2 separate regions of the Homo sapiens genome follow, and region 1 is linked to region 2. The links come from fine-mapping of genetic effects on gene expression. A gene starts in region 2. The other region holds a variant in brackets. All regions are shown on one strand. Distances are from middle to middle. Region 1 has its middle 14 kb from the start of NPR2. Region 2 holds the start of FAM221B (family with sequence similarity 221 member B).

What was found. PIP is the estimated chance that this variant, and not a neighbour inherited with it, causes the effect.
Region 1: its variant is fine-mapped to the expression of FAM221B in whole blood (TOPMed, PIP above 0.99).

What each region holds. Positions count from the first base shown.
Region 1 is chr9:35,772,340-35,782,646 of GRCh38, forward strand. It overlaps a transcript of RGP1 not described here. Among named protein-coding and RNA genes, the nearest start is that of NPR2, 14 kb to the right of the region's middle. The variant G/A (reference allele first, on the strand shown) is at 4,083.
Region 2 is chr9:35,824,023-35,834,329 of GRCh38, forward strand. FAM221B (family with sequence similarity 221 member B) reads right to left here and starts at 4,710. Exons shown (of 7, transcript NM_001012446.4): 1 at 4,441-4,710; 2 at 1,542-2,139; 3 at 1,208-1,351. The coding sequence starts at 2,139. TMEM8B (transmembrane protein 8B) reads left to right here and starts at 5,206. Exons shown (of 13, transcript NM_001042590.4): 1 at 5,206-5,933. The coding sequence starts at 5,426. RefSeq lists enhancers at 2,075-2,434, 5,798-6,298 and a silencer at 5,063-5,512.

The DNA.
Region 1 (10,307 bases), 52 kb before region 2:
AGGATGACTATGAGTATGAGCTATTATAGAAACCATGGTAAGAGTTTTAAGTAGATGACAGTAACATCAAATGTGACTGATGTGTAACTGGAGGAACTTACTGTCATATGCAAACTAACAACTCCACTGTATTCTTCTTCATCCAGATCATTTGTAAAAATTTTATACTAGAGGCCAGGCGCGGTGGCTCACGGCTGTAATCCCAGCACTTTGGGAGGCCGAGGCAGGCGGATCATGAGGTCAGGGGATCGAGACCATCCTGGCTAACACGGTGAAACCCCATCTCCTAAAAATACAAAAAATTAGCCGGGCGTGGTGGCGGGCGCCTGTAGTTCCAGCTACTCAGGAGGCTGAGGCAGGAGAATGGCGTGAACCTGGGAGGCGGAGCTTGCAGTGAGCCGAGATCGGACCACGGCACTCCAGCCTGGGCAACAGAGCGAGACTCTGTCTCAAAAAAAAAAAAAAAAAAAGTTTTATACTAGACTATTCAACAAATATTTTTTGAGCTGCATACTAACTGTGGTGGGGTTGTATAAATGAGCTATAAAGTTGTGTTTTAAAGTAATATGTCTTCATAAACAAATATGCTGGTAATTTATACATAAAACTCTCAAACTTTACTGGTGTATTTGTTAAGTGGAGACTACAGACCTATTTCAGTGACATTTACAAAAAGTCCTTTGGTATTCTTTTATCCTTGTGGTACCTTAAAAAAACCCATATATAGCTTCTTATTGCAAAAGTAATACATAATTATTGAAAAGTACAGCCAGGCATGGTGGCTCACACCTGTTACCCCAGCACTTTGGGAGGCTGAGTCGGGAGGATCACTTGAGCCCAGGAGTTCAAGACCAGCCTGGGCAATATAGTGAGACCTTGTCTCTACGAAAAATAAAAAACAAATAGCCAGGTGTGGTGGTGAATGCCTATAATCCCAGCTACTCAGGAGGCTGAGGCAGGAGGATTGCTTGAGCCCAGGAGGTTGAGCCTGCAGTGAGCTGAGATCGCACTACTCTGTCAGCCTGGATGACAGAGTAAGAACCTGTCTTAAGTAAAAAGAAAGAAAAGAAAAGAAAAGAAATATATATGTATAAATTCTAACACATACTATTCCTAAAGAGACAGTCACTCTTAACATTTTGATTTATACTGTTCCAGGTTTCCTTTTTCTTTTTTTTTTTGAGACGGAGGCTGCTTTGTCACCCAGGCTGGAATGCAGTGGTGCTATCTTGGCTCACTGCAACCTCTGCCTCCTGGATTCAAGCGATTCTCCTGCCACAGCCTCCCAAGTAGCTGTGACTACAGGCGCATGCCACTAGGCCTGGCTAATTTTTGTGTTTTTAGTAGAGATGGGGTTTCATCATGTTGGCCAGGCTGGTCTCGAACTCCTGACCTCAGATAATCCACCCACCTTGGCCTCCCAAAATGCTGGGATTACAGGCGTGAGCCACCGAGCCCAGCCCCAGGTTTCTTTTTAAAAATTATTTATTTATTTAATTTTTAAAATAAATAAAAGAGATGGGGTCTTGCTATGTTGCCCAGGCTGGTCTTGAACTCCTGAGCTCAAGCAATCCTCCTGCCTTGGACTCCCAGTGTTGGGGTTGCAGGTGTGAGCCACCACACCTGGCCCGTATTATTATTTCTGAAGATCTTTTTATATGTGAAAAAACAATCCATTGTTATTTCAGTTTTATAGCCACTTTAAAAAATGTGTATTGGTGCACAAACTTTATTCTCTGATGATAAATTTCATTAAAACAGTCAAAAATTATTATAAGTTGGTTGAATGAAGTGAATGGTTAATCTGGGTTATTCCGGTTTTCGTTGAATGTACATGGGACTCTGAAGGGGTCATACCCCAGTTCTACCACTGCTGGGTCCTCAGGAGACTCAGCCTCAGCACCTTGCTCCCCCATGGCAGCAAACGCCTCCCTCCCTGAGAGACTGACTGTGCTCAGCTCTGGTCAGGGCAGGCTGCACAGGCCTTTTGCTGGATGACCCGGTAGGCAGACTAAGTGTGTGCCTTTAGGGTCCCAGCAAAGCAGTGGTACTAAATAGATTTGGAGGAAAGGATGTTGCTGTGTTTTTAAAAACATGGAAGTACTTGGCCGGGCGCGGTGGCTCACGCCTGTAATCCCAGCACTTTGGGAGGCTGAGGCGGGTGGATCACGAGGTCAGGAGATAGAGACCATCCTGGCTAACACGGTGAAACCCCGTCTCTACTAAAAATACAAAATAGCCGGGCGTGTTGGCGGGCGCCTGTAGTCCCAGCTACTGGGGAGGCTGAGGCAGGAGAGTGGCGTGAACCCGGGAGGCGGAGCTTGCAGTGAGCCGAGATTGTGCCGCTGCATTCCATCCTGGGCGACAGAGCAAGACTCTGTCTCAAAAACAAAACAAAAAAAAACATGGAAATAGTTACTATGGGGAAATTTGAATTTATTGATTTTATTTTTATTTCTTTTTTGGAGGAGGGGAGTACTATAATCTTTTCAGTGTTTTTGGTTTTTATACAGGTCAATTCCCCTCTTTGACTCATCCCAAATTTTGGTGGGGGGGGCTTCAGTCACATCCTTGTCTTTTTCAGCAGCCTCCTCCCCATATTGTCTCGAGGATTGGGAAGCAGGAAATTTATAATACCCTTTTCTCTCTGTTTTCTCCAAATTCATTTTCTCTCCTGTGTTCCTTTGGGAGAAAAGGGAAATCAGTTCTGTCTCTTCACTCCTCTATATTACTCCATCTGGATGGACCCACACTGATAGCAGTGAACCTTGAACTTGGCAGTTTTGGAGCCAGGGTCTTTGCCCTCAGTGCAGTAAATTCATTTTTTTTTGTTTAGCTGCCAGATTTAGGGTCCAAACAGGAAAACAGAACTCACTCTAAGCATTTAAACCAGAGGGCATTTAATCCAGAGAATTAGCTGGCTGTGAATATGGTGGAAGAGCTGAGAAGCCTTTCAAGGGAAGGTGAGGCAATGCAGGGGAAGATTAGCAACCGAACCTTCTATTCTCCCTAGGCTGTGGGAAGGAGGGGAAGTGCAAGGGGCAGGGTAACTTAGAAGCCGGAACTTTGGGGGCCTGTTCTAGGGAAGCTGGGGCCAAAGAGTGCCTGTCCAGATGCTGGCCAAGGCTGGGAGAGAAGGGGAAGAGATAGTCTGGCTTCTCTCGTTCAGTTTTCTGCCAGTGCCTCCCTGACTGAGCTCAGCAGGAAGCCATCTGTGGAGGGAATGGGAAGGAGCGCCACCATTTACTACACACGCTTCCACATAAGCTTGCGTTTGTCTCTTCCTAGTTAGTACACTTCTTAAGGATATTGAACTAAGTTGAACAGTTTCTCTTTTTTGGTCATATACTACTGATCAGCTCTTCTTATTAGACTTTTCAATGAAGAGATGAAAAATTTGAAAACCTTTACACAGTGTAAAAACAAGCAAACTCTTTTAAAAAAATTTTTGCTTTACTCTTCCAGAATATGGTCCCAAACTGCTGATGGTGGGATGTAGTTCAATTTTGGATATGACGGACCCCTAATAATTACCATAATAATGGACATTTATATAATGCTTTACAATATACAAGGTGCTTTTACATTTATTGTTACTGCAAATAGGTCTTAATCTGGGGATTTTGGAGCCTGTTTATTTGACCTCTAACAGGTTAGCTTAAGGCCTAGATTTGAAAGAAAAAAACAGTAATGCTCTTTTCTTGTTTTCCTCTGAATCACAGATGATAGGCAAACTTCTTTGACCTTTTTGTTAGACAGTTTAGCTACCCTCAGTAGTGGGAGGTGTTCTTAGCTGTCACTGGTGGGAGAGGCTGGCATCAAATTACTCCTCTGTTTTTCTCTCTTGGTGACCCAGCAGGTGTTTAGGACAATGACGACTACTCATGTGGAACCTTTGCAGTCATATAGATCATGCCTGTTGTTTTTGGCCTATTCTCCTTCTCCTTCTTCTTCTTTTTTTTTTTTAGATGGAGTCTTGCTGTGTCATCCAGGCTGGGGCGCAGTGGTATGATCTCGGTTCACTGCAACCTTCACCTCCTGGGTTCAATCAATTCTCCTGCCCTCAGCCTCCCGAGTAGCTG[G/A]AATTACGGGCGTCTGCACCATGCCTGGCTAATTTTTGTATTTTCAGTAGAGACAGGGTTTCATTATGTTGGCTAGGCTGGTCTTGAACTCCTAACCTCAGGTGATCTACCTCCCTCGGCCTCCCAAATTGTTGGGATTACAGGCATGAGCAACCGCATCTGGCCCCCTATTCTCATCTAAATAAATATTTTATTTCTTTATTTTCAAAGTGTCATCCTTGGCCCTCAAGGAAGAGTCTAAGTCAGCCCTACAGTTCATCTTGTCTAGTGTTTGATCAAGATTTGCTTTGTGGGCCAGGCGCGGTGGTTCACGCCTGTAATCCCAGCACTTTGGGAGGCCAAGGTGAGCAGATCATGAGGTCAGGAGATCGAGACCATCCTGGCTAACACGGTGAAACCTCGTCTCCACTAAAAATACAAAAAATTAGCCGGACGTGGTGGCGGGCGACTGTAGTCCCAGCTACTCAGGAGGCTGAGGCAGGAGAATCGCTTGAACCTGGGAGGTGGAGCGTCCAGTGAGCCGAGCTGGCACTACTGCACTCCAGCCTGGGTGACAGAGTGAGACTCTGTCTCAAAAAAAAAAAAAAAATTTGCTTTGTGGAAAATCAAAATAATTGAATTTATTCTTGGGCCAGATATACCCCAACCAATCTTAGCTTTGTTTTTATGACATTATACATGAAGTTATCTAAATCAGGTGTTTTTCTTTTTTTTTTTTTTTTTTTTGAGACAGAGTCTTGCTCTGTCACCCAGGCTGGAGTGCGGTGGCATGATCTTGGCTCACTGCAAGCTCCGCCTCCCAGGTTCACACCTTTCTCCTGCCTCAGCCTCCCCAGTAGCTGGGACTACAGGTGCCCACCACCATGCCTGGCTAATTTTTTGTATTTTTAGTAGAGATGGGGTTTCACTATGTTAGCCAGGATGGTCTCGATCTCCTGACCTCGTGATCCACCCTCCTCAGCCTCCCAAAGTGCTGGGATTACAGGCGTGAGCCACTGTGCCAGGCCTAAATCATGTTTTGTGGTTTTTTTTTTTTTTGTACTTGTTTCTTTCATTTATTTATTTTTATATATATAGAGAGAGAGATAGGGTCTTGCTATGTTGACCAGGCTGGTTTCAAACTTTGGCCTCAAATGATCCTTCCATCTTGGCCTCCCAAAGTGCTAGGATTACAGGTGTGAGCCAACGCGCCCAGCCTGGTACTTGTTTCTTGTAAGATGTTCTAGTTCTAACTCTTCTTCTTCAGACCTACTGATCTTGGATTATACTTTTTGTAATACTTTATCTTTTGGTTCCAAATGACTGGTTTTCAGAAAAGCCTTCTTAGCTCTGATGTTACCGTTCTGCCCTTTGATGTTTTTAATCTCCTTGCTACAGCTATGAGGGATTCACCATGTGTGTTTATCTATTAAAAGAAATCCCATCTTTCCCTTTGAGGTCCCATTGCCATCCTTTAAAACATTCAAGATATCAAGCACCCCATATCAATGACATATTTTTATGCTTTCTTGTTTATGATTAAGATTCATTTTTAATTAAAAATTTTGAATAGGTCATACTTGCACACCTGTTACAAAATTAAAGCTATACAAAATGGGCCAGGCGCGGTGGCTCATGCCTGTAATCCCAGCGCTTTGGGAAGCCGAGGTGGGCAGATCACCTGAGGTCGGGAGTTTGAGACCAGCCTGATCAACATGGAGAAACCCCGTCTCTACTAAAAATACAAAAAAATTGGCCGGGCGTGGTGGCGCATGCCTGTAATCCCAGCTACTCGGGAGGCTGAGGCAGGAGAATCACTTGAACCCGGGAGACAGAGGTTGCAGTGAGCCAAGATCATGCCATTGTTCTACAGCCTGGGCAACAAGAGCGAAATTCTGTGTCAAAAAAAGGTATACAAAATGATAGATAATGAAAAAACTGTCTCTTTCATCTTGCCCTTTAGATACCTTGTTCCCCTTCAGGGAGGTATTCGCTGTTAACAGTTTCCAGTCCAAAAGCTACGTTTTAAAGCATAATTAAATTTCTGGCCCCTTCTCTAAAGTCCCTCAATTATTAATCATATTAACTCTGTAGAAGGATGTATCACAACATTATACTGAAAAATAAGCTGAATATACAAAAGTGTTCAAGCAGTCAGAATACTTTGGAATATAATATGACATGTCAAACTGGTGTCTGACATGGATGGCTTCTGGGTGGATGCAAGTCCCTAAATGTCCAGCCTTCCTTTTGTGCATTGGCTTTGCCTGCCTACATACCCACTCCCTCCTCTCGAATGCACAAATAATGCACATTCGCCTTCCTGTTTGCTTTCTCTTAAGCCCAAGGCTTGTTAATCTGGGATCCTTTAGCTCCTAGATCCACGTGCACCTGAAATGATATGTAAAATGTTGTGGAATAATATGTATATGTGCTTTTTATATTTTAATGGGGAAAAGAGAGTATACATGGCTTTCATCTGATGTTCTATCTCCAGTCTATCTCTGTCTTCTTTATTCTGCCTGAACTTTCAAACTCCTGGTTCCTTCTGTCACTCAAAAGATGACTTTGCTTCCCCATTGAGGAATGCAGTTGAGCTCCTTATTTCATATAACCTTCCCTTCATTTCAATATATTATAGAGGATGTTGAGTAAGGTTTTTTTCTATTGCCCTGGAATTGGTGACTAGGGTCCAAAGCTGGGACAAAGAGGACTAAATACTGCACGTTCTAGAGAGAGTTGCTAATAATTGGATCAGAGCTCCTCTCCAGGGCTTACAAAGAGGTAGCAGAAGTGGCCCTGCAACTTCCAGCCAACCCATACCTTACCACCCCACCTCCATTCCCAGGCTATATAAGATAAAAGATGACTGAAGGGAGGCTGTCATGAGCCTAGCAGGGAGTACTTTTCCCTCCTTTCCCCCCTTAAAGTAAGCAAGGGAGTATGAAAGAGATCTACATGAAAGAGAGATTGATTTCTCATTCCTTGGTTAAACTATCTGTTTAGACAGTGGATTTGTTCAGCTCCGCACCTGTCTGAGAAGAGGAAAGGCAATTAGAGAAAGGAGGAAGGGCAGAGTAAGGGGATAGTAGTGGAATAGTCTGCATTCATTCTGTTTGGCTTAGCAAGGGTATGTGAGTTTCTGTGATCAAAGGGACACTGAGGAAGATCGCCGGGCTTGAGCCATCATGCTGGTAACCCATCCAAAAGGCTGCCACTGAACAGAAGTTAGGAGGGTTAAAGAGATGGCTTGGATCAGGATTCTCTGCATTAGGGCACAACTCAGTGGAGAAGCCCAGTAGGACCTTCTAAAGAACTCACATAACTGTCTCATAAGAGAGCCAGCATCTTTTTTTTTAAGATGGGGTCTGTTGCCTAGGCTGGGGTATAGTGTTGTGATCATGGCTTATTGCAGCCTGAATCTCTTGGGCACAAGTGATCCTCCTGCCTCAGCCTTCTGAGTATCTGGGACTGCAGGTTATGTGCCACCACACTCGGCTAATTAAAAAAAAATTTTCTTAGAGACAGGGTCTCTCTACGTTGCCCAGGCTGGTCTCAAACTCCTGGGCTCAAGTGATCCTCCTGCCTCAGCCTTCCAATGCCTTGGGCTTACAGGCATGAGCCACCATGTGCAAGAAAGATAGCATTTTGACATCTGCCAAACAACAGGTTGGCATGGTCTGTCAGCAAACAGTGGTTTGTGATAACTACCTTGTTAAATAAAAAGAGAGTTGTTCTTTTCCTCCCTGCCCTCCTCCTAGTTCTCAACCACCAAGGAGCTAAAACCCTTCTAGAGAACCTTCCAGAGAACTAGAAGAGGAGAAGCAGAATCAATAGAAGGGATCATATTCTTCTCTCCACCGCAGGTTCCTTAAGCCATGGCTTAAGATGAGTTCTGCATTGGACCTGAGACTGGAGTTTTAAGCCATATCGGACTGAGTCTTTAAATAACCAAAAGGGAGCAGAGTGTTATGGACTCTGACCATGATGTTGTGAAGAGGTACAAAGGAGACATTTGTCATGGCACAGATGAAGACTGATGGGTGGCAGGTTATGTTTATACCTGACCAAGCTCAATGCTCAACAGATAAGTTAAATTTATCCGTCACGAAATCTATCCCTGAATCCATTGTTCCACCTTTCCCTGCAGTCTCAGAGGAATTTCTTTTTCTTTTAAAGTGAATCCCTGGCTGGGCACGGTGGCTCACACCTGTGATCCCAGCACTTTGGGAGGATGAGGAGGGTGGATCACTTGAGCTCAGCAGTTTGAGATCAGCCTGGGCAACATGGTGAAACTCCATCTCTACCAAAAATACAAAACAAACAAACAAACAAACAAAAAACAACCAGGCGTGGTGGTGTGCATCTGTGGTCCCAGCTATTTGGGAGGCTGAAGTGGGAGGATTGATTGAGTCTCGGGGGATGGAGGTTGCAGTGAGCCAAGATGGCGCCACTGCACTCCAGCCTGGGTAACAGAGTGAGACTCTGTCTCAAAATATGACCAAATAAATAAAAATAAAGTGAATCCCTTCATCCATACTCATATATCCATTGAGAAAACATTTATTTGAATTCTAAAATATACTGCCAATGTAAGGTACAAAGATTAAGGACGATAAAATTCCTTCTCATGGAATACACAATCTAATGGGGCAGAAAGTACCTACTTTAAAACAAATGTATTAAATTAAATTGAAAAGTGGCCTGAGTAAGCCTCAAAAAAGACTAATTAGAACTCAAGGGAAGAGAAAACATTTCAGGCTGACAGAAAACCCATGGGCATAGAATAACATGACCCACTTAGAGGACTATAGATAGCTCTATATGTTTAGAAGGCATATGTGGCTGCAGAGGAGGCTGGAGAGGAAGATGGAGCCAGGACCACCTGGTGGACTGAGATTCTTGTTCTCCATCCTGCAGGCTAGTGGCTCTGAACAGCAGTAGTACTTTTCCTGGAGGGGCATTTTGGTCCGTGGTGGGTGCGCAGGAGATAGTGGGGGTGGGGGGAGGGGGTGGGGGGGCAGGCAGGAGGGGGTGGAGGGGAAGGGGCATTTTCTTGGTTGCTATAGTGATGAGAGTGGGTGCTACTGGCATTGTAGTAGTTGGAGGCCGCAGATGTTAGACTCTGCAATGTGAGGACAGTTCCACATAATTAAGAATGTATTCCATGAGAGAAGGAATTTCACCTTGTTTTGGTTGTTAATCCTTGTACCTTGACACTGGCAATACCTTTTAGGTGTCAAATAAATGTCCTGAATTCGGCATGATTTAGATATCCTGAGTTCTGCACAGTCTTCAAATATTCCACCAAACAGTTGTGTAGGGTGTTATATATAAATATATATATAAATACATCTGTTCTGTTATTGCTTATCCTAACACTGGTGTTTAATCCAGTATCTTTCTTTATGGAGTGGCTTCAGATCTCTTAAATCAAAATTTATTCATTCCCTGTAATTAGATGGAAGCATCTAATTACAATTAGCTGAGTGCCTCCTTTGGTGTTCTATCACAGTTATATCCAACCATTTACATATTGAAATACCTGTTTTTAAAATAAGTTATTGTCTTTTATTTCTCTCGTTTTTTTTTTTTTTTTTTTTTGAGATAGAGTCTCACTCTGTTGCCCAGGCTGGAGTGCAGTGGTGTGATCTCGGCTCACTGCAACCTCCCCCTCCCGGGTTCCAGGGATTCTTGTGCCTCAGCCTCCAGAGTAGCTGAGATTACAGGCGCCTGCCACTATGCCCGGCTATTATTTCTCTTCTATATTACAGGTAGGAAATTTTATTGATGTTTTGAAATTATGTGTAGAGATAGGTTGTATTATCTATGCATTTTATTTTAAGTTAGTAAAGGTGCCGTTAGAAAATAATTATTAGAAGGAAGATTTAGGTTTGGTAGCATCAAGAGTCATTGTTTAGTCACTGATTTTCAAAGTGTTATTTTGAGCTGCAGAGCTCAAATATTTTTGTTCATGAGCTCCTTAAAATAAAACACTCACACAATTTTAAATTGAAATCTAACTTTATTATTACAAGGTTTTTTGTTTTTGTTTTTGTTTTTTGAGACGGAGTCTCGCTCTGTTGCCCAGGCTGGAGTGCAGTGGCACGACCTCGGCTCACTGCAATCTCCGCCTCCTGGAATCAAATGATTCTCCTGCTCAGTCTCCCAAGTAGCTGGGATCACAGGCGCGTGCCATCGCGCCTGGCTAATTTTTGCATTTTTAGTAGAGACGGGGTTTCTCCA
Region 2 (10,307 bases):
GTGGGGCGGGAGGGCAAGGGTGGGGAGGTGGAGGGTCCCTGCATGGGAAAGGGGAAAGTAAATTTCATGGAGGAGGGATAAGCATTTAGAATTACCTGCTTGTCTTTATGTTTTAGGCCTGTCATCGTAGCTCTATTCCCATCATAAAGGGAAAGGAAGTATGAAGGACCAAAATAAATGTCATAACATCTATTGAATTCAGTCTAGAAAGACCAGAATCCTTATAGCAGGTCAGGGTGGCCCTCTTACTGAAGGTAATCCCTATAGACATGAATTTCCATAACACAGGTAGGCATGCTCATGCATAGGATGGCATGTTTTTGCAAGTTCATCTGTACGCAGCATGCCACTAACAGGACTGTCAAGAGTACTAATCACAGGCTGAGGCTTGGAAACAGCAGGGCCAGAGGACACAGGTCTCCCCTTTGGTAACAGAACTCAAAGCTTTTGGGTACCCAGCATGGGCCTGGCATGCAGGGGTGACAGCCTTTTAATGGAGTTCCACCAAAGGGACTAAGGTCTTTGTCATGTCAGAACAGCAAGTCTCCTGGGGACTGTCCAGGGTCCTGGGCCATCTCTGCTTTAGGGTCTGTAGGCTCTCTGGGCCCTATATCTGGGGTGGGCCATGACCCTTCTGTTTTTTTTTGTTTTTTGTTTTTTGGTTTTTTTTTTTTTTTGAGACGGAGTCTCGCTCTGTTGCCCAGGCTGGAGTGCAGTGGCGCAATCTCGGCTCACTGCAAGCTCCACCTCCCGGGTTCACGCCATTCTCCTGCCTCAGCCTCCCGAGTAGCTGGGACTACAGGCACCTGCCACCACGCCCGGCTAATTTTTTGTATTTTCAGTAGAGACGGGGTTTCATCGTGTTACCCAGGACAGTCTCGATCTCCTGACCTCGTGATCCGCCCATCTCGGCCTCCCAAAGTGCTGGGATTACAGGCGTGAGCCACCGCGCCCAGCCGACCCTTCTGTGTTTAATAATTTTAGTTCAGCTACCTGTCTCTACCTGGGCTTTATATGAATCTCCCCACTTTTTGTCTGCATCCACCCTTGTATTCCTTGGCCCACTTGCCTGCTCCTTTTCCAGGCAGGTGGTATAGCCATTTCCAAAAGGGGAAGCTATCTGCTGAATGTTCAGGTTCCCAGATCTTTTGGATTAGAGGATGCCCATGGGCCTGTCACAGGCCTCTGAAAGGCCACATGGGCTCACCTGTCTGGATGGCATTCAGGGCTGCATCCTTCTCCCACTGGAAAAGATTGTTCACTTGAGCACCAAACTCCTCTCTATGCATTGCCTTAGCCACTTCCACCAGCTCTGTCTGCCTAGCAGGGAACACTGGGCGGGCTGTGTTACCTAGGATGGGAGAGGATGAGTAACCAGGGGGAAGTGAGAAGGCCCTAAAACTAAGAGAAGGGGCCATGTCCAAGAGTAACCCAGTCTCCTCCTCCTGGGGCAAGTCAAGGACAGTGAATAGTAGTGAGAACAGGACAGGGGAGAGGACAGGTACAATTACAGCTAACTCCTTTCTTCTTCTTCTTCTTGCCTAGTTGGTGTCCAGGTTGGGCTGTGTGAGCAGTGCTGTCACTGGCATCTACTCCCTTTTCAACCTCTCCTGCTTCTTCCTCCTGCTTTTCGGTTGTGTCCACTTGGACCTGGGATGAAGGGCCTGAAAGACAGTGTTCTGGAAGGCTCTCAGATTCAGAGAGATGGGTAGACCTCCTTGTCCATGGGACCTCATTGGAAGAAGACTCAGAGGAGAGGTCTTCCTTCAGAGTATCAGAAGAAGACAGACAGACATAGTCTCGTGATTGGGGAGGAAGAGTAAGGTGTTTCTCTGGCACCACTGAGATGGGACTATCCAATGAAGCCTCATAGGTAGGGGTCTCTGAAGGAGTCTCAGAGATGGAAGGCTCCTGATGGGTTTCAGGGGAATGGGCCTCTAAGGGGATCTGGGAAGGGGATGGCACCAAAGGGGATTCAGAGGTATGGGGCTCTAACGGGGTCTCAGAGGTGGAAGGCTTCAAGAAGCTTTCAGAGATATGGTTCTCCTGTAAGTCCTCAGCAGAGGGGTCCTTTGAAGGGGGGTGCTTCTCTGCATCCATGGTGATATGAGGCTCTTCTATGATCTCATGTGCTTCCATCTAGTGGTAGAACAGGGTACAGGCTTCATTAGGTTGGAAATAGAGGGCCGGCAAGTCAGGGCAGAGCCCAGGGTTCGCAGTGCATTATGGAATTTGGATAAGGATATCAGTGCAGCTGAGATATAAGAGGGAAACAACATGAACTCTGGGTCCTAGAGTGTGATGCCAAAAGGTTCACCCATGTGTCCAGACCTCATATGGCATGCTGCTGTGGCTTGTTAGGGAGCTGGAACTTAAAGATTGAAAGACTGAAGTAGTTCGAATCCCATCAGTAGATGGTAGCAGAGAACCATGTCCCAGGAGGGAGTCTGAACAACACCACTTGGGCAGTCCAAGAGCAGGGTCCTTGGCATATCTTAAAACCCTGGAGGTCAGACCATGGAGTTCTAGAGACTGGCAATACCAAGCCAAAGTTGGGGTTGGCTCCTGAGAGTGCAGGGGAATGCTGTCACATAAGGCAAGACACTGCACGCAGCCTGGTTTTGTCTAGGCACCACACACATCCTCCTCCCTTAATGATGTCATTCATGTTCAAAGCTTTAACTACTTCCAGTTGTGTACCAATGACTCCTAAATTCACATTTCTAGCTCAGACCTTTTTCAACCTCTGTACTTCACACTCATACCCACCTGCCTGCTGGCCTTCTCTTCTCTTCTCTTTTTGTGATGGAGTCTCGCTCTGTTGCCCAGACTGGAGTGCAGTGGCGCAATCTCGGTTCACTGCAACCTCCGCCTCCCGGGTTCAAGTGATTCTCCTGCCTCAGCCTCCCAAGTAGCTGGAATTACAGGCGTGTGCCACCATGCCCGGCTAAGTTTTATATTTTTAGTAGAGACGGGGTTTCACCATGTTGGTCAGGCTGGTCTTGAACTCCTGACCTCAGGTGATCTGCCCTGCTTGGCCTCCCAAAGTGCTGAGATTACAGGAGTGAGCCACCGTGCTTGGCCCCTGCTGGTCATTTCTAACTGAGTGTTTCCACAGACAGCAAAACTGAACTTTGGGAATTATCCTAGTCTTTTCCTTTTCCCTTAGACTCCATCTTCAAATAGGCACCAATAACTCTATTTCCTATCTTCTAAATATTCCCCAAATGCATTCTCTCCTCTCCCTTCCAATTTTATTCAAGTTCTCATCATCTTCAGCCTTTGTGTAATAACTTTGCCCCTCTACTTCCATCCACAGCATTTTAATCCATTCACCCATTCTTTCATGGATTTATGTAACTTATACTTTTACAATGAGCCTAATCTGATGCTTTTACTGACCCGCTGTGCTAAGCTCTAGATTGAGTTGAGTCTAGGAGAGAGACCGATTAACCAACAATGGCAATACAAATAAATTGATGTTGTTCTGGGGTGAGTCTAGGATACGGTGGGGAGGGGGATATACCTAATTTATCCTGCAAGGATGTAGTCCTCCTTCCTGACCCAATCAGGATCTTTCTAAAGTGCAAGCCCAACAACTGGCACTTTGTGGCTTAAAAACATTCCATGACTCAGTCTAAAGGATTAAGTCCAAATTTCTTGGCCCTGGCATTCAAGGCCTGTCATCATTTTCAACACAGCCTGAGGATTCCTGCCTTAACTTTCCGTGCTCCCTACTTTACCCCCATGTTCCAGAGACGCTAGATATATCACTCCTTAAATGCATCAGAGCCTTTTTGAAGGGGATGTTTGGGAAGGGAATTAGGGGCAGAGGTAGGATTACAGGGAGGAAGATGACCAGAGTCAGCTAGAGAGAAAAGGGGCCTAAGAGTGGAGAACCAGAAGATGGGAGGTGAGGAAGGGGAAAGAGAAGGGGAGGAGGAAATTGGGTGGAGGAGGAGAGTAAGGATGAAAAGTACAGAATGTGGGCCAGGCATGGTGGCTCATGCCAGTAATCCCAGAATTTGGGAGGCCAAGGCGGGTGGATCACTTGAGGTCAGGAGTTCGAGACCAGCCTGGCCAACATGGTGAAACCCAGTCTCTACTAAAAATACAAAAATTAGCTGGGCATGGTGGCAGGCGCCTGTAGTCCCAGCTACTGGGGAGGCTGAAGCAAGCAAATCACTTGAACCTGGGAGGCGGAGGTTGCAGTGAGCCCAGATCGCACCACTGCACTCCAGCCTGGGGGACAGAGCGAGACTCTGTCTCAAACAACAACAACAACAACAACAACAACAACAACAACAACAACTACTACTACTACTACTACTACTACTACTACTACTACTACTACTACAACAATGTGAAGGGACTGAGGGGTGGGAGAAAGACAGATGTCTTTGAGGGAAGAGGGCAAGGGCCGTTGGAGAAACCACCTACCCTCTGGGCTTTGGCTTGGTTGTTACAAGTCCTTAGGTCAAGACCTTGACTTAGGATGGCAGGGGGAGGTGTTGATCCTCAGGGAGGAAAGGCTCTTGGTTGTGGATGTGCCTCAGCTGCAGGTGCTGAGTGTTGAAATGCCTTGCCTGAAAGTCTGCTATCTGGGAAGGGGACTTGGATATCTGCAGAACTTCGCAAAGGAGCTCTGGCATGACCTGGGGAAGTGGGTAGGGACAAGGGGTCTAGGGCCAATGAGGGAGGGTCTTGACTGAAGCCTCCGGAACCCGGGCCAGGAGAGTAGGCGCCGGTCACCAGGGCAACCGGAACGCCTAGTAGTCTCCGTGGCAACGGCGGTCTGGTCACCTCCCCGGTGGGTAAGGTCTCCTGAGGGGCTTGCATTGGGCCTCGAGGGGGCGAGCCCAGAGGGTTTACTTCTGAAAAGTGGGGTGTGTGTTGCGGGATCTCTGTGAGCGAGTGTTTGGGTAGGATCTGCGGAGATCTGTGCGTACGTCCGGGGGAGTCTGGGATTGTGAGGATAGGGTTCCTTTGAGACATCTGTGGGGCGGTCGTTGGGGGCTGTGAGGATCTGAGGGGACCTCGGGCTCTGTGCTTGGGGTGAGAAAGGCAGGGTCTCGGGTAGCTGAGGCGGGGGCGGAGTCTGTGTGTCCTCGAAGCCCAGCAGGACTAAGTTGGGGACCAATAGAGTAGGGCGGGGGCGGGCTTTACTGACAGGGACCAATCGAGCCGGCCGGGGGGCGGGGCGTCACGCCGACGTCAAGTCGAGGCCGCCGCCGCGGGGCCTGGTTATCGCCGGTTCAGCGCAGCCCGGAGTCGCCCAGGCCTGAACTCCTACCCAGGTCCCCGGCCCCCGCCCCGGGCCCGCGAGGACACCGGAGGCCACCCCCCGGGGGTGGGGAGCGGAGCCGCGGGCCAGCTCTGCGAGCGCCCCGCGCTGGCCTGTCCGGCCCCGCCCCCGCCCCGGGCCATGGCCCAGCCCTTGTCCCGGCCCCTCGTCCTATCCCAATCCCCGCCTTGGCCCCCAGCCCCGCCCTCGCCCCGCTTCCCACATCGGCCCCAGCCCCTGCCTGGGTCCCCATCCAGGACCCCCTTCCAGTCTCTGCCCCTGGCCTGGCCCCCATCCCGGCCTCGGCCCTCGTTCCACCCCCTGTCACAAATCCCAGCCCAGGCCCTGTCCCAGCCCCATTCCCAGTGTTTGCTTAAGGCCCTGGCTCAACCCCGTCCCTTGCTGCAGTCCCCATCACAGCCCTTCCTTCCATCCCACTCCCTGCCCTTGTTCAAGCCCCAGTGTCCAGCCCAGCCCAACCCATTATCTCAGCCTTTGCCCTCATCTCTGTGTTTACCCAAGTCTCTCCCTCTAGTCCCCCCTATCTCTCATACTCTGCCCCTCTCCCAGCCTAGACTCAAGTCTGGGTTTCAGCTGCCGCCAGCCCTATTGCTGCTGTTGCTGTTCTCTGTCCTTGGCCCAGGGGCTGGTGAGTGCAGAAGCAGGGAAGATTGAGGCAGGAATGGGGTTCCGGCAGGGAGGGGTGGGCTGGAGAGATTCAGGAGAGGTGGGACCTGGGGAACTAGATCATTGGGGAGCAAGTGGGAGAAATAGAGAGTAGAGAGGTCTTACACAACAGGGATTGGCAGGGTCAAAAGAGTGGTAATTAATTGGGTTTGAGGCTCAGCAGGTGGCTTACAGTTTCTAGCACAGAGACTCCAAGATTTTTTCTGGTGTCTGTCCTGACCCCACTTTGACTCTTGCTTTTCCAGGGAAATGTTGTGGGCTTTGCTCCTGCTCACAAAGTTTGATGGGGGAGAGACAGTCCCACACCAGAAGCCCCTAGTGTAGTGTGGGAATATATAGCCCAAACCTTTGAGATATTGGGCATGCATTCAAACGGCATGAAGAAGAGTTTTAAAGATAATATGTAGCAAATAGATGAATATGGATTAGTTGCCATTATAATGAGTTTTCTTCTTGTAATGATTCTTGTTCCAAAGAAGATTGATTTGCCTAGGAATAATTCCTGATACTTTTAGAGCAGGGCTGAAACTCGGAGGCTATTTTACAGATGGGGAAACTGAGGCTCAGGGAGGGAGCAATTTGTCCAAAGTCAGAGAGCTTGTGAATGGCAGTGTGCTGGGGCTAGAAAAAAGGTTTCCTAATTCCTATTTCATACTAGTGTGTTTTTTTTTATCCACTGCAATGTATACTTAATAGAAAAATAGACCCAAGTGGGGAAAGGCTCAAAGCATAACCTCCCTTCTCCCCGGTCTGCCCACAAGGGTGCTTTATCCACAAACTGTTCCTTATTTGCCAGGCGTCAGCCAAGGGCCACCCTCCGGTGGGGAAGTGACTTGGACAGAAGAGAGAGAGGTCCAATTTTTTAATGGTTGGAATGTGGGAGGAGGAGGGGGTGTCCTGGTCTAGGGGATGTGCCATGAAGATGGCTCCATCATGGAGTGACTGTAGTCTTCATGGCCCAAGTCTGTAGCCACCTCTGGTGGGTGTCACTCTAGATAGGATGGAGATGTGCCTGATGGAGTCTTTGGAAATAACAGCCAACAGAACAGCTGGGGGGTGGAGAATGGGTATCAGTGAGCTCTGGGGGCCTGGTTCAGTGTACAAACTTAAGGAGACGAATGCACGTGAAAGGTCACAACCCCTGCAGAGATGTCTGGTCACTTATGTGTATGTGTGTAACTGAGGGATTGTGGGGAGGCTGGCAGCATGTGTACATGCTTGTGTGTTGTTAAGTGTAGACACGTGCATGTGTGTGGGGTGCATGTGAGCCAGTGTATCTTCTGAGCGCCTGTGTTATGGTATGAAGGGGAGGGGACATGTTGTGGCCCATGTACATTCCTCTTCAGCTCTGCCTCCTCCTCATATGGACAGATCACTGAAGCTGTGAATGGGGCTGGAGACCCTTTCTCAGCAGTTCCAAGGGTGAGGGCAGTGTTGCATGCCTCCCATAACGAATATAAGTTATCCATCCATCCCCAGCCAGTGCCTTTGAAGGAAGGAGCTGTGGAGGCACTCTGTGTTGATTACTGCTGCTGGCAAATTGGACACTGGGCAGAGGCAGTAGCCAGTCAGGTTTTCAGTTTTGGTAAGGGGAAGTTTATGCTGTTGGGCCAAGTTCCTAGCTTCCATCCTCTGCCATCATGGCTTCTTCATGTGCCCATTGAGCAAGCATTGGGCTGGTGAGGGGAGCAGGGTGACCGACAGCCACAGAGCATATACAGCTGAAAGTTGTGGATAAAAACACTGTTGCCCAGAAGCAGGTTCAGGTGCTTTGGGGAGAATTGTAATGAAGTTGGAAAAGAGTACCAATACACCCAAATGGAGGCAGGGCTGCCTTTAGTGCTGTTAATAATGAATGCCTTGGCAATTTTGGACCAAAGTACAGGGTGCTCTGTGACCTAATGGTGGTGATGGGTTTTGTCTGAGGAGAGGCTGGCAGTGTCATAGGACCATCATGGCACAGGGCTGCACAGTGCTTATTGGTTGCTTCGGTTTCATTTCAGGAATGGAAGTTATCTCTTGGGTCTAGTGGTCCCACTCCTGATCCTTGGATCTTTTCCTTGGGCTTAGTTGAGGACTCACACGTGCCTTGCTATTCAAAAAAAAATGGGCTTTTATTCTACCTAGTGCTATTACTAGCAGGGCCAGCCTCAGCCTATGTGTGTAGGTGTAGGGGTGTGTGTGTGTGTGTGTGTGTGTGTGTGTGTATGTGTATGTGTGTATGGGGTGGGTGATGGTCGGAATTACCCTAGCTTCATCATAGAAATATTGGGGAACCTGGAATAAGTTCATCTGAACTCGGTAAGGGCCTTACTCATGCTTCTTCTGGACACAGCTCTGGTAGGCCCTGTTCAAACCGCAAACCAAAGTTTGGAGTGAATGGGGCTGTGGACCCTTTCTCAAGCATCTGCCCTCAGAACTTCTTCCAAGTTCCTCCTAGCATTCCCAGCTGCTGCTCACTCCTTTATCTCACTGGCCTATTCTGTGACCTCTGTAGCCCCTGGCCACTGTGGGGATGGCTTAGCTAGTTCCCCAGTTCCCCAGGCCATACTGTGATCCTTTGAATTACAAGGATCTTTGTGCTTGTCTGTCCATGTTTCCCAAAGGTCATTAAACTGCTTTTCACCACTAGCCCTCATCTGAGGGTCTGCACCGAGGGACTGACCAACATTTCTCCTAACGGTAGCAATGGTTGATCAGATGACCCATCCCTGGTACCAGCTTTGAGGAGGATCAGCCCTTCCCTAACCCCAGCAGAAGGTGCGCTAGAGTTCTGATTTCTTCTAACAATAGTATCCAGGCTGTTCACCTCTTAGCCTTCTGCCTCCTACTTAGCACAGCTAGGGTTCCTAGGAAACCCGTCTCTTCCATCAGTCGGTCCCATTTCCCTTTATCCCTCTCGGCTGCATCTCTATCACTCTCTGAATGCTGCACTGGTAGCCTCTCTGGGTTCCTAGGCAGTGCTCAGCTTGCAAGGTGACAGGTTTTCCTTCCTGACAGTTGAGACTGATCATGTGGTCTGAACTGGACAGACTAGTCCTTGAGTGTAACCGTGGCCTCCAATGGCCCCCACCTATGTAGGGCAGCTCTCTGGGGTGACTCCTGGGGTTGCTCTGGTTCAGTGTTCGTCCTTCAGCAGCCTCCCCTTCCCTTTCTTTGTTATTTCAAAAACACCTCATTTTTGGAGTTAATCTCTCCCATCTCCAGAGAGGGAGATGATTGGACTAGGTTAGCCCTGAGGGTATTTCCTGCTTGGCTGAAAATGCCCCTCCAGAGTAGTCCTTATTCCAGCCCCGGGTCTGTCCTGAAGCTGCTGAGTTCCCCACCTTCTCACCTGTCCTGGAGGTGTCATCTTGGGCTTCTTTTCTGGCTGGTCCGAAGTCTCCAGAGCAGTCAGATTCCCTAGAGGTTTACTTTGAGAGACCTTGCCTGCCATTTGGGACCCTCTTCCCCTGTCTGCTACTGGTTGCCTCCACTGTGACAGCTATTCTAGTCCCTTGCCTGGCTAGCTGCTGACACAACTTCTGCTCACCTTGGCTCTGCTCCTGACAATCATGATCAGGTATCTTGGCATTTTAATGAGGGATGACCACTTCCTCCCCACCTCCCAACTCGGCCTGCTCTGAATATTCCCAAGGGGCTTGAAATCCACTGGGTCACTAACTCACTGCCTCACTGGGCTTCCCTTTGGGGGAACATTCCCCCGGCCCCCACCTACTAGCTGTGCATTCTGACCTGGGAGGCCTGATGACTCTCCTTTCCTGGGGACTCTCATGGTGGCCTGCCAGCTCCTGTCCTTGCTTTTGCCACCCAAGCAGGCCCCTGGCAGCCGTACCACACTTTCCCCTCCCCTCTCCTGCCCTGAGCCAGTATACAGGCAGCGCTTGTGAGGCTGCTGAGGGTTTTTACTGCTCCTAACCACAGGGGAACAGAAAGGGGAAGAAAATCAACAAGGAAGTTACACAGTTCCATGCTGACTCCCAAGCCCCACAGGTGGAGTTTCAGCCTGCTCAGTGGCTTAAGACGCCATGCCAAAATACACACACACACACACACACACACACACACACACACACACCTTCCACACATCTGTTTTTTTTAGGTTTGGTAAGTGGAGAAAATGGCTCCTAAGTGAGGAGGCAGCTGTGAAGTCAAAGGGTCTTAGTTTTGGATTTAGAGAGAGCTAGGTTTGCATCCTCAGTTTGGTCTAGGTTTGAGCCTCAGTTTCCTTATCTGTAAAAGGAGGGTTTTTTTGTTTTTGTTTTTGTTTTTTTTTAAATAAGATTAACGTAAGGATTAAACCAGATGATGGCTAGGTTTCAGATCTGCAGCCTGA